2 linked regions of the Homo sapiens genome follow. The protein of the gene in region 1 interacts with the protein of each later gene in a pairwise test. Each region holds a gene or a part of one and is shown in the gene's direction. Other genes may lie near its edges.

Region 1 (3,818 bases):
ACCATGTGAACTTTGGAGGGACATAAACATCAGTCCATAAGTAGGAGGTTAGGGCAGTAAGCACACAGGTAAATACATAATTGTAACTTGTGGAAAGTGCTTTAAGTGAAAACAACAGCATGTCATGAGACAGGAGATCAGAGCAGAACTAGAATTAGGAGAGTCTGGGGACGCCTCTCAAGGAATGAGCCTTTTCAACTAGGACTTGGGATGAAAAAAAGAGTGAAATCATGCTGGATGCAGAGAACAGTGGGTTCAAAGACCCAGAGGTGAATGGGAAGGATGTGGGTGTGTTGAGTGGCTGGTGTGGTAAGGCCCAAGCCCAGGAGGGTACAGAGCTAAATAATGAGACACACTCAGGCCAAGTAGGGCCTCCTGGGCTGGGTAAGGATTTGGGATTTTATTCTGAAGTGCGGAGGGAAGCTTTGGAGGAATTTCCCCTCCTGACTTTTTCCTGTCATTCATAATATACAAGAAAAAGATCATTAGTCACTTCTATTTATTCAGATAATGAACAATCTCTACTTCTTAAGCTATATAAACCTTGTCTTAGTGTGTGAAACAATTCTGGAGTGTCTAGTTTTCAATCTCCAGATGAGGGAACTGAGGCTCAAAACAAAGTGAAAGAAGGCAGAGGCAGGATTTGGAACCAGGCCTGCCCAGCCCACGGCACATGCTCTGTAGTTTTCTGGGACAGATGAGTGTAAATGCATATGGGCCTCCTAGGCACCCGGCATCCTTCATCAGGAGCTTCAGTGGATGGACTAGGGTGGAGTCCAGTCCTTCCTGGCTCTTTAGAAACAGGAACAAAAGACCCCGAAGAGTGGAGGGAGGTTGGGCATGTACAGGTCAGGGGGTCAGAATCTGTAGGCACCAAATGTCAGGGCCCCCTGGCTATGGGAAGGGCTGTCAGTTTTTCACGCTAGTCTGTTCTGCTCCGCCTAGCTGTTGCCCAGAAATCCCAAAGAGGGTGCCTTCCCAGCTCTGTTCACCTTTGAAAATCTGAATTCATCATTTGTGTGCACTTGAGAGACCCAGGGTTTGGTAAAAACAAAATTCTTTATTGGGTGTTTTCAGGTCACAGGAAAAGCCTCCACTGTGTGGGACCCACATCCTTAGCACTGCATGCTGGCTGCTTCCAGGCATCTGCACTGACCCTGTTTCTCCTTCCTTGCTGTGAAGCGGTCATGAGGTTGCAGTGCCAGATGTGTTGCAGGCCAGGTGTATCTCGGCTGGTTGGGCAGGCCTTCTGCTTAACATGGGACCTCACTTAGTGAGGGAAGAGAGCAGTCCTGGCCCAAGGGGTGCAGTGTCTGGGGCAGATGCTTTAGGGGTTATGGCTCTATCATCTTCTCAACCTCTTAATGCCACTCAGGGTCACCACACATAAATCCCTGGGTACTCTCCCACTTAGCTCTGTGACAGGTTTGTGTCCTAGATGCTTGCTGACTCTGTATACATGTTCAATGGGGTTAATAAACGTCTTCAGCTAAGCATTTTGGCCAGCGATCAGCAGAGTGTTTATTTGCTGTGGGCCCGGTTTCAACTCCCACTTTGGTGGTGACTAATATATTTTGTTCTTGTGGAGTGCTTTTCACTTGATAAGCCCCAGACACTTTCTGTGTCAGTCCTAAATGCCATATCCAGATGTCCTCCAGCTTCCAGATCGGCCACTTCTGTGGCACTTTCCTCTGCATAAACACTTCAGCCCTCTCGCAGAGTGGAGTTCCAGGAAACCGGTTTCCACTTCAAGGCTCTGTTGTTTTCTGCTGGCTTTCTTCATTAAGATATTTTTATTCACTGGCCCCTCAGAGATGAATATCAAGTGCAGTGTTTTGGGAACTTTGTTTTTCAAAGCCTGGATAAAACCAAGAAAATGTCAAGCAGTAGGTGATTAAGTACCAAGTGGTCGCACAGGCAATGCTTTTGACATTGACAGCTGGGCTCTGGTTAACCTTTTAAAGACAGCAGCGAAGATAAATGCCTTAGAGCAACAGAAACTATTGGTGATGGAAAGTTGAATTTATTCACCAATAAACTTGGTAAGTGACATTCCCTAAGTGAGCCTGTGAATTATGGAAATCCACGTATCAGTGGACATGATGAAGCACCTGCTATACGCAGTGCACCCGGCCAGATTCATTCATTCGACGGTTCCTATCGAGCACCCTCTATGTGCTGGAGATACGGTGACTCACCAGATGGTCGCCCTCCCTTGTCATCAGTGCTGGCCTTGAAGATGACAGATGGAAATGCTGGCCTAGGCTGCCCTCTTGTAGGTCACGGCCGGTGCTTACTATGTGACCAGTGCTGTTCTAAATACCGTATGTACGTGTATTAACTCACTGCATGCTCACAGAGATCCCTACATGGAGTAGGTGCAGTTATTATCTGTACTTACAGAGAAGAAAACAGAAGCACAGAAGAGAGCATTATTTGTCCAAGTCACATAGCTGGTGATTGGAACCAGATAGCCTGGCTTTAGAGTCTGTGTCCTTCACTGCCACTACCAACCAATGTGAAAGGAAAATAATCAACTTAGGACACAAAGTTGCACGCCCTCTGAGAGAGGCGGGGATAGAATACCATGGGCCTTCCCAGCAGGGAGAGATGGGCTTAGGGGAGAAACAGAGTAAGGTGGGAACCCTACCCTTTTCCCATTCTGACAGGTGACATCCCCGCTGGGGGGATGGAGGAAATGTTTGGCTACTGAGGAGGCTACTCTGGCCAGAAGTAGACAAAAGAAGCAACTGTCTCGCAGCCAGGAGACTTGGATGCTAGTTTTGATTGATCCGGACAAGTCCAGGGCCCTGCCCAGGGCCTCTGTTTTCCCATCTCTAAAATAGGTGGCTTGGACAACATTCTGTTTGACCTCAGGAGCCCAGGATTTCAGCAGAGAAGGGAGGAGCTGGCTCTCTGTGCACTCTGAACAGGGTTTCCTGACCAGAAGAAGATGTTTGGCTCTGAGAGATGTGGGGGCAGGCATTGGACTTCCCAGAAGGCCTTGGCAGCTGTGAAAGGATGTATGCGTTCCACTGTGGTCCCACCCCGAATGCTGACGTTGGCTGTGTCTGCATTCCTTTCTTTGTAGGCAGGATGGCAGTGTCTGTGTGTCTGGAGCTCACACTATAAGGTACTTTGTATGAGAGACAGAGGGAGCTAGAGGGAGGGAAGAGGGAGTAGGGAGGGGAAGGAAGCCGGGAGAGAGAGAGGTGATTCCGGGAGGGACTGACTTCCATCTGCTTTCAAATTCTGAGGGATTAAGTGCTTTCAGATACTTAAAGTCAGTGAGTGTCAATGGAGTTAAAAAGCTTCCAATAATAATTGTAGCTTCATCCATCTGCTAAATTGTCTCCAGAGTCGGCTGCCTATAGTGTTCTGGCATGGCAGAGGCCCACATGACCGGGCTTGTTTTCCAGGTTAAGTTCCTTAAGAAATTGTAAACCAAGCAAGAAAAACAAACAGACAACAACAGAACACAGATTGTTGTGGATCATGCAGCAGGAAAAGTAGGACACCATTTGAGCTGACCAAGCATATGTGTTCTCCGTGCAGCTCTGTCGAAGCTGTGTAAGGTGTGCTTGGTGCTGGCTCCTGCCAGATGCTGTTGGCATGGCTTCATCCACCCAGCTTGCTGTTGGGTAACTTGCAGAGTGAAGAAGTCTGTTGTTCACGTCATCACCACAACCCTGAACATCCAAGCAGTTCATGTCAACAACTAGAGTATAATTATCTTCTTTACTTGTAAAACTGTGGAGCCTGTGGATTAAATTCACCAAAATGAATCATATTCAAGAGAAGTCATTTCCTAAAGGAGA
Region 2 (3,818 bases), on another chromosome or scaffold:
TTTGGGTCAATGAAATCAAATTATTGATTTAGTAGAAAAGCTGAGATGATCTCATCTGATTCCCAAATTTTATAGATGGAAGTCCAGAATTATATAGTCAATGGGGTAGCAGCAGAACCAGGCATTTTAATTGTACCATTGTGTCTCTTTATTACTCATTCTGCCTGCTAAGTATAGGTGTTTTCCAAGATTCTTCTCTTTCTCCTTTACCCTTTGCCGGGTTCAACCATTTTTATAACTTAAACAAAAATCATCTCTTCCCAAATGACTTGTAAATATTTACCATAATTTATCATAAATTAAGTTGCCTACCAGACATTTGTCTTCAGATATCAAATTCAGCATATCCAAAATAGTACAAAATATCTCCTCACCAAAATAAGATTATCCTGCTAACTTACTGCTTCTAGTATCACTTCCATATGTCTGCTTCCTCAAATATGACCCTTATTTGTTGTTTTCCTCTGGTCTGTCATTATAAGATCCTTTCCATTTTTCTTCAGTAATTTCTCTTGGGCCTTAGGTCCTTTACCAAGGATCTAATTAGAAAAAAAATTACATTGGAGGAACTCCTTTACTTAAAAAAACTGTTTTAAGGTGAAAGGCAGCATGGAGTGTTAAAAGAATGTTTAGCTAGGAGATGGAAGACTTGTTTCTAGATCTGGCTCTGCGATTGATTTGGGGCAAGTCCTTTTACTCACTGGGGCCTTACTTCCTTTATTTTAAAGTGAAGAGGTTGAATTAGTGGATTTTCTATTAAGTCTTCTGTATTATATGTATGTCCTTTCTTTCTCCCCCTGCCCACACCACTTCAATAGTGTCTGCAGGCTCTGGAGTTCTTGCATTCGAACCAGGTCATTCACAGAGACATCAAGAGTGACAATATTCTGTTGGGAATGGATGGCTCTGTCAAGCTAAGTAAGTAGGAGCCTTAGGAATGATAATACTTCTCTGCCTGTGGGGCCCTGTCTCCTGTGAGATGGTCATCATATAATAGTAACTACGACACTCACCAAAGGGTCTTTATGATTTCATGGGATATGAGGGCTGTTTTATATTTTCTGTATTAATCATAGGATATCATTTCATTATTTTTTCATTCATTTATACATTTAACAACAACCACAAAAAACTTTGCTGAATGGTTACTCTGTGCTAGGTCCTGTGATGGGCACTGAGAGTAAATTTTCCCTACCTTCTCAATCTAGTATGGAAAACGTGTAATAGATAATTAGAAAAAAGAGTTTTGTATAATTTCTTTCATTCAGTTATTCAGCAAACTTTTATTGAATGTCCAGTACATGCTGGTCCTTCTAGGGATATGAGGACAAGTAAGAGGACATAATCCATACTCTCAAAGGCTTCCTAATTTAAATAAATTTATAATTGCAATATAATGTAAAAACCATGGCAGGTAGAGCATTTTGTTCAAAGGTGTAAAGACCAGTAGACCAGACAAACAGGCTGTGTCATGGGTGGATGGGCAGTTTATGGAAGGACTGCTAGCAGCCCTGGGTCTGGGGCATAAAAACAGGGCCATGCCTAGTCATAGGTGATTGGGGTTTAAATCAAGGACTCGTGCCCAAGGAATAAGACAAGGACCTAGTCGCCAGATTTGGGATTATGGGAATGGTTTTTCAAGAACAAAGCAGAATTGGGATGAGCAATCAAGACCAAAATGGGCAGCTTGGACTTTAACACTAAGTCCCCTGGTTTGAGGAGAAGTAGGAGGCCAGAGATGGTGTTTCTTATATTCCTTCTATTTCTCTTCAGGGTTCAATAGGAAATAGGCTAGGAGCTAGACATGAAGGTGGTAGTCAAGTGACTTTGGAGAGACAAAGGATAGCAGAGCTGGAAGCCAGGCGGATCTTGTCACCTATGTGTAGGTACACAGTCAACACTTACTGAAGTGAGTGTATATCCTAAATGTATGTTCTTTCTCTTATTTTTCTTTTCTAGCTGACTTTGGATTCTGTGCACAGATAACCCCAGAGCAGAGCAAACGGAGCACCATGGTAGGAACCCCATACTGGATGGCACCAGAGGTTGTGACACGAAAGGCCTATGGGCCCAAGGTTGACATCTGGTCCCTGGGCATCATGGCCATCGAAATGATTGAAGGGGAGCCTCCATACCTCAATGAAAACCCTCTGAGAGTGAGTGTTACCAGTTCTATTTCAAGTTATTTGGGCTGTTGTCTCTAGTCCCAGGAAATAAGAATCCAGGGTGTTCTCTGTGGTTTTCAACCTGGAGATCCCTTTTCTGGATACAACTAGTCACTGTTGAACTTAAAGTATAAATGGCCAAAGAAAAGGAATATTAGAAGTCACTCATTCATTTATTCAACAATTATTTGAGTCCCTGTCAAGTGCAAGAAACTATTCTAATGAAAATAAAATAAATTAATATGTAGTAACAGATGGTAAATGCTGTGAGAAAAAGCAAAGTAAGGGAGTTAACAGAGTAATGGAGGAACAGGTGTGCTATTTTAGAGTAGAGAGGGAAGTTCTCTCTTATAAGTTATTTTATTCTGCAGAGTTGGGAAGTCATTAGAGGGTTTTGAGCTGAGGAGTAATGTGATCTGATTTATGTTTTAAACAGATCATTTTGGCCGCTTTTATGGAAAATAGACTGCGAGAGACTGTTGTAATAGTTCAGAGTGGTGGTGTCTTGGTAGGAGTGGAAGTGAGAAGTGGTCAGATTCAGGAAATTAAAGGACTAGCTGACAAGATGAACTGAATATTAGAGAAAGAGGAATCAGCAATGACTACAAGATTTCTGGTCTGAATTGCTGAAAAAATTCAGTTGCCATCTGTTGAAATGGTGAAGAGCATACTTAAGTTGGGTAATAAAGAGTTGGTTTTGAATGTGCTGATTTGAAGTGTTAATTGGACATTTAAGTGGAGCTGGAGTAGAGTTTGGCTTAAGAGTCTGGAGTTCAAGGGTGAGAAGTCAGGACTATAAACATAAATTTATTAGTAGATAATATATAGTTGGTATATATAGTAGGTAGATGAGATCACTCACCTAGGGAATGAGTACAGTTAAAGAAAAGAGATTTGAGTACTGAGCTCTAGGTTATTCCACTGTTTACAGGTTGGAAGAACTAGCAAAGTAGACCAAGGAGTGGCCTTTCTAGTGTGAGAGAACAGAGAAGTGTCTTGGAGGTGAAGTGTCCTGGAGATGAAGAGAACAGTGTGCTTCCCGAAGGAGGAGGAGGGTAGATTATGTGTCAAATGTGATTGATAGGTTAAGATGAGACTGAGAAATGAACATTGGATTTGCCAATGTAGAGGTTCTTAATGACCTTAATAATCAGTTATCAGTAGAGAGATGGGGATGAAAGTCTAATTAAATTCATGAAAGTGGAAGAAGAGGACATTGAGATGGCATGTATAAACAGGTTTTTTTTTCTCTTAAAGGAATTTTGCTGGGAAGGGTAACAAAAATGGAGCACTATCTTAAAATGGAGTCAAGGGAGGGTTTTTCTAAAAGATGATGTCTGTGTGCTAATGGGAATGATTTAGTGGAGAGGAGGAAAATGGTCATGTACAAGAAGGAAGTGACAACCATAGAAGTGATATCCTTAAGTCGATGAGAGGGGTTCGATCAAGTACTGAAGTAAAGGACATTAGATTAGCATGGACAATTTATCCCTTGTAACAGAGCATCTCAACACAGGTGCAAATAGGTTGGTAATCTTGGTGTGGGCAAATGTGAAATTTATTCTGATTGCTTTTATTTTCTCATTTATTCCCACCTCCCATCCAGTGCAGGAATTCCCTGTGCACTGTTGCTGGTAGGTGGTCATCTACATG

The links.
Region 2: the proteins of NOD1 (region 1) and PAK1 interact in binary tests that used the Homo sapiens proteins (3 or more experiments, as listed by UniProt).

Annotation. Positions count from the first base shown.
Region 1 is NC_000007.14:30,468,768-30,472,585, reverse strand, and holds part of NOD1 (nucleotide-binding oligomerization domain-containing protein 1), read left to right. Parts: intron 1-3,818. UniProt on the Homo sapiens protein: Pattern recognition receptor (PRR) that detects bacterial peptidoglycan fragments and other danger signals and thus participates in both innate and adaptive immune responses.
Region 2 is NC_000011.10:77,334,424-77,338,241, reverse strand, and holds part of PAK1 (serine/threonine-protein kinase PAK 1), read left to right. Parts: intron 1-818; coding exon 819-918; intron 919-1,959; coding exon 1,960-2,156; intron 2,157-3,818. UniProt on the Homo sapiens protein: Protein kinase involved in intracellular signaling pathways downstream of integrins and receptor-type kinases that plays an important role in cytoskeleton dynamics, in cell adhesion, migration, proliferation, apoptosis, mitosis, and in vesicle-mediated transport processes.